2 separate regions of the Homo sapiens genome follow, and region 1 is linked to region 2. The links come from fine-mapping of genetic effects on gene expression. Tissue or cell type: whole blood. Region 2 holds a variant in brackets; the other region holds the start of a gene. All regions are shown on one strand. Distances are between the middles of the regions.

Evidence for each region. PIP is the estimated chance that this variant, and not a neighbour inherited with it, causes the effect.
Region 1: EXOC3L2 starts here. The variant in region 2 is fine-mapped to the expression of EXOC3L2 in whole blood (INTERVAL, PIP 0.99).

What each region holds. Positions count from the first base shown.
Region 1 is chr19:45,244,023-45,246,702 of GRCh38, forward strand. It overlaps EXOC3L2 (exocyst complex component 3 like 2), which reads right to left and starts at 1,385. Exons shown (of 12, transcript NM_001382422.1): 1 at 1,319-1,385. RefSeq lists an enhancer at 1,079-2,075.
Region 2 is chr19:45,211,623-45,214,302 of GRCh38, forward strand. It overlaps EXOC3L2 (exocyst complex component 3 like 2), which reads right to left. Exons shown (of 12, transcript NM_001382422.1): 12 at 748-1,735. The coding sequence ends at 1,447. It also overlaps a transcript of BLOC1S3 not described here. Among named protein-coding and RNA genes, the nearest start is that of EXOC3L2, 32 kb to the right of the region's middle. The variant A/G (reference allele first, on the strand shown) is at 1,096.

The sequences.
Region 1 (2,680 bases), 32 kb after region 2:
AAGCAATCCTCCCACCTCAACCTCCCGAGTAGCTGGGAGTACAAGTGCAAGTCACCACACCTGGCTAATTTTTGTATTTTTAGTAGAGATGAGGTTTCGCCCTGTTGCCCAGGTTGGTCAACTCCTGAGTTCAAGCGATCCACCTGCCCCAGCCTCCCAAAGTGCTGGGATTACAGTCATGAGCCACCACACCCAGCCTTGATTTCTCTTTCATCCTCTGAACTGGCATCCACATGCCTCATCCCAAAATGGCTCCATCATCCCCCCTCCACCCCATAACTGTCTCCATCTTCCTCTCAAAATTTCAGGCTCGAATTTCCCTCCAATTGAAGTCAACCTTGCCCGGACTACATCTGACTTTCCCCCACCTGGCTTCAATATCGCCTCCAAACTGGATCCAACATCCCCAAACCTGGCTGCAACATTTTCCCAAAACTGTCTCCGACGTCTTTCCCCTTCCTGGCTCCAACACCCGCCTCTGCAAACTGGTGCTGACATCCTGCCCCCTCCAACCCTCTGTCTGCCTCCCAGTGCCCAGCCCCTGACTCACTTCCGAGGCATCCCTCAAGCCCCCAGCCTCTCAGGCCCGCAGGATGTCTTGGCCACCAGAGCTTCCCTCTTTGAGCCCCTCCTCCTCTTCCTCACTGCCAGCCTTTTCCCCGGAGTCCCTAACCTTCTGCAGCGGCCCTGACCTCGGTTTGCGGAATCCATCACCTCCAACGCTCAGCATCTGTATTAGAGAACGGTCTTTCCATATGGCATGTCCCCAAGCCCAACCCCAACCAGTGCAACCCCAATCTAGTCCTTGACCCCAAACACAATCCTGTCATCAGCCCAGACCACTGCAAGCTCATCCACATCTCCAATCCCAACCTGATCTCGGTCTCTCCTGCTTGATCTCAATCCCTACCTGGTCCCTGTCTCCCATCTCCGAGACCCCATCTCTTGGGATAGAACAAATACCCGATCCTTCCTGGCCTCAGTCTTCCCGCCCAGACTCGCAGGACATTCGACCCAATGTCATCTCATCTCTATTCTCCTTTGGTGGCACCAAGGTTTCTAATGCTCCCTTGCACCCTTTGTGGACCCCGCGAGTCCTCAAATTCTCCCCTGCACCCTCCTCTCATTTTCATCTCCTTTCTGCCTTCTCGCCAGCACCCCTCTGGAGTCAGGCCCCAGATTCTCTCTTTGCCCCCAGCCTCTGCTGGGTTCAAGGTACAGGTTCTCATCAGCTCTGGTCCAGTGCAACTAAGGGCAACTGTTTTCCCAGTTGCCCTGGGGAAGGGGGACCCCTTCCCCCTGTCCCCAGCACACTCACCTCTGTCCTCCTGCCCGTCCTTCTGTTCCCGCTGCTGTCCTGTCCCCAGGCTACTTCAGCCAGGACTGCTGGGAGCTTGGATCTGAGTTGGGGGGGTGCTCGGAGGAGGACAATTTCCTGTCAGGAAACCCCTCCCTCTCTGGGGCCAGGGGCGGGAAGGACTCATTATCTGTCTGCCCTTTTAGGCCAGGCTGCGGTTGGGCTGGGAAGGCCGAGGCCCACAGCTGGGCCCCCACCCTCACCCCCGCTCCAGGCCGGAATCCGCCCACTCCTGCATGCTCTTCACGCCTCCCAAGGTGACAACACCATCCTGGGCGCCCCGGGGAGACACCCCAAGCTGGACGCCAGCCCAGAGCTGCTCTCCAGCATGGGCAAGCCCCGAGGCCTTAGAATGAGAACCGGGGGGCAGGCACGCATCTCTCTAGAGTTCCCTGCCACGGGCTGAAGACCAGGAGGGAAGTTTTGCTGGGCCCAGGGGCTGGGGAGGGGGACCTATGGAGGAGGGCACTGGACATGGCTTTGGAATTGTGGTTCTCTTTGTCTAGAAGCCCCTGTACCCAGGTCTCTGCATGAGGCCCTCCTTTTCATCATCCCAGTTCCAGCCCCACAGTCTCTTCCTCTGTTCTCCACTGTCCCGTCTCACAGAGTCGTCACTCTGCTTTGTCAATTTATTTTTCTTTTTTTTTTTCCTGAGACAGAGTCTTGCTCTGTTGCCCAGGCTGGAGTGCAGTGGCGTAACAATAGCTTACTGCAGCCTGGATCTCCCAGACTCAAGAGATCCTCCCACCTCAGCTTCCTGAGTAGCTGGGACTACAGGCATGCACCACCATGCCCAGCTAATTTTTGTATTTTTTGTAGAGACACGGGTCTCATTAGGTTCTCCAGGCTGGTCTCAAACTCCTGGCCTCAAGCCATCCTCCTGCCTCGGCTTCCCAAAGTGCTGGGATTACAGGCGTAAGCCACTGTGCCCAGCCTGTCAATTTCTTTATTGCACCTTCTACAATCTGAAATTATCAGATGCAACTGGATTCCTTGCAGATAAACTCAGCAAAGCTCACTTTGTTGATCCTGTTCATCTTTATAAGCCTAGCTGCGTGCCTGGCCCTCAGTAGTCAAGATTTAAATGAATTTAAATGAAGCTGAGGGTTGGAGGTGGGTTTGGAGATGGACTTCCTGCTAGAGTTGGGATGCCAAGTGAAGTGAGGGCTGGGGCTGGAGCTGGTGCTGGGTGGGGTTGGGTATGAGAGTCAGGGTTACTTTAAAAGGCTAGGGCCATGTGTGGTGGCTCATGCCTGTAATTCCAGCACTTTGGGAGCCAAGGCAGGGGGATTGCTTGAGCCCAGGAGATCAAGACCAGCCTGA
Region 2 (2,680 bases):
AAGGCACAGGAACCTCAGCCCAGAGAGGGGCAGCTTCCTGCCTCGGGTCAGGAAGCACAGCCTTGGGCTCCGAGAGTCCCTCGTCTCTACCTCCCCAAGTTCAAATGTGCATGCGTGAAGTTCCAAACCCAGCCCCAGTGCTAACCCCTGGCTGCCTCCTCTTTCTGACTTCTCAGGGAAAAAAAAAAAAACCACATACACACAAAAAATCCCACAAGTCAGGAAACATCCATCACGGGCTGTCCAGCCCAGGCCGGAGGGGCAGGAGTCAGCAGGGAGGTGACCTCAAGGTCTCCGTGGGGACTAGGATCCGGCGGGGCTGGGGGTGAGAGGCTGGAAATTTTCCCACCCCGAGACTTTCCTGCGTCAACCCAGGAGGGCGCCCTGGATGCCGCCAGCCCTGCCCCCAACCTCCTTCCTCTCCTGACAGGGCAGCTTCCCGGCTAAGGATGGATGGGGAGGGTGTGCCAAGATGGAGCCACCAGGACCAGGAATGGACAGGCACTTTGAGATTGACCAGACGAGGGACCCTGGCTCAGAGTGGCGAAGGCCTGGCCTCAGAGCCACACAGCCAGGAGGTGTACATGGGTTGGCGTCGCTCCCAGCACATGCAGCCTCCCTCTACCTCCACTACCCTGCCCAGGAGCTGGAGCCCAGCCCGGCCTTGGGTGTGTGAGAAGCCACTGGCCCGGGGCCCTGCTTCCCCGGTCCTTCCTCCCCACAACACACTCAGGACTCAGCCCTTCCTTGTGTTAAATAGAAACCTCTTTATTCTAAGTATCGAACGTTCCTTAATACATTGGATTGGGGCCAGACCTTGAGGTGAGGGAAAGGGGCGGGGGAGCTGGGATATTTCTGTAGAGACTTCCAGAACGACACTCACCACTCTGGGCTATGGCAGGAGGGGAGGTGCTGGGAACAGGCTTCATGGCCTTGGGAAAATGCTTTGTCTCTTTGGCCTCTGTTTCCCCCTACCTTTTTTTTTTTTTTTTTTTTTTGAGAAAGGGTCTTGCTTTGTTGACCAGGCTGGAGTGCAGTGGCACAGTCATAGCTCACTGCAGCCTCGAACTCCAGTGATCCTCCAGCCTCAGCCTC[A/G]CCAGTAGCTGGGACTACAGGCACACACCACCGTGCCCAGCTAATTTTTTATTTTTTGTAGAGATAGGGGGCAGGTCTCACTATGTTGCCCAGGCTGGTCTTGAACTCCTGGGCTCAAGCAATCCTCCGGCCTCAGCCTCCCAAAGTGTTGGGATTACAGGCATGAGCCACCGTGCCTGGCGTTTGTTTCCCTTCTGTACAGGGAGTTTGGGGTTGGGTGAAAAGACATCTAAGGGTCTTTCTATCCCAGGGGTGTGTGGTCCCAGGCAGGGAGTCAGGAGGGGCGCCGTACGGGAGGTTGGCTTGTCAGCAGCATAGATGGGGTCACTAAGGCCGGCGGTTGGGTGACCCTCAGCGCTGGGCCCGAGGTCGCGCTAGAGACGGAGGCCGGGGCCGAGGCAGACAGGCCAAACTGGGCCTGGCCAGCCGGGAGAGGGGGAGGCGGCCCAGGAAGAGAGGGAGGCTGAGACAGAAAGATGGGCGGGGCACAGGGATGTCTGCAAAGAAGGCACGGTCCCGAGGGGGTGACAGGGCTCCCTCCTCAGAGAGTTCCAGGTCCCGGGCCACGGCCAGGATCTCCTGGCGGGCGGCTGTGTTGCGCAGGCCACGGATGTCGAGGAGGGCTGCCACGTGCTTCTGCCTGTGGGGAGAGGAACAGACAGGTGCATGCAGATCCCCAGCTCTAGACACACACCCAACCCAGCCGTGGACCCCACCTGACCCCCTCACCTATCCCAGAAATTGCCTGAGTTCTGGGGCCTCTGTGTCCCCTCCAGAGCCTTCCCTCCAATCAGCTCCCTTGCCCAGGCCCTCACCTCATACCAGCTCCCTCCAGAACTTCACTTCCAACCATCTCCAAATCCCCCTTACAACCAACCCCAGAACCAGCCCTGGGATCTTCCTTTTCACCCCAAGCCTCAGCTCGTGATTAAAATTCACCTTCTCAGCTGGGTGCCGTGGCTCATGCCTGTAATCCCAGCACTTTGGGGGGCCAAGGCAGGCGGATCACCTGAGGTCAGGAGTTCGAGACCAGCCTGGCCAACATGGCGAAACCCTCTCTCTACTAAAAATACATTAAAAAAAAAAAAAAGCTGGGTGTGGTGGCAGGCGCTTGTAATCCTAGCTACTCAGGAGTCTGAGGCAAGAGAATCCCTTAAACCTGGGAGGCAGAGGTTGCAGTGAGCTGAGATCGCGCCACTGCAGTCCAGCCTGGGTGACACAGCGAGACTCCATTTCAAAAGTAAAAAAAAGAAAGAAACCTTGTACCCCACTCCCCCTAAATCCTCAGCCCTAGGTACCTCCTAATCTCAAGCTCAACCCCCTAAACCCAACCCAGCTAGCAAACTCTTAAACTTAGCTACAGATTCAAGTTCTGACTCATGATCCAATATTCAAGTTCAGAAACTCCACATCAGCAAGAATACTGGGACTTCTTGGGACCCCATGGGACTCCAGGAATATGTGCCTTCCCAAGGACATGACCTTATCCCCCAGAATCAGAACTGACCACCCTGAATCAATTCCAGGACCCCCACCCTCAGTGCTGAAACTGAAACCCGCTCATGCCTCACTCCTTGTTTTTCTG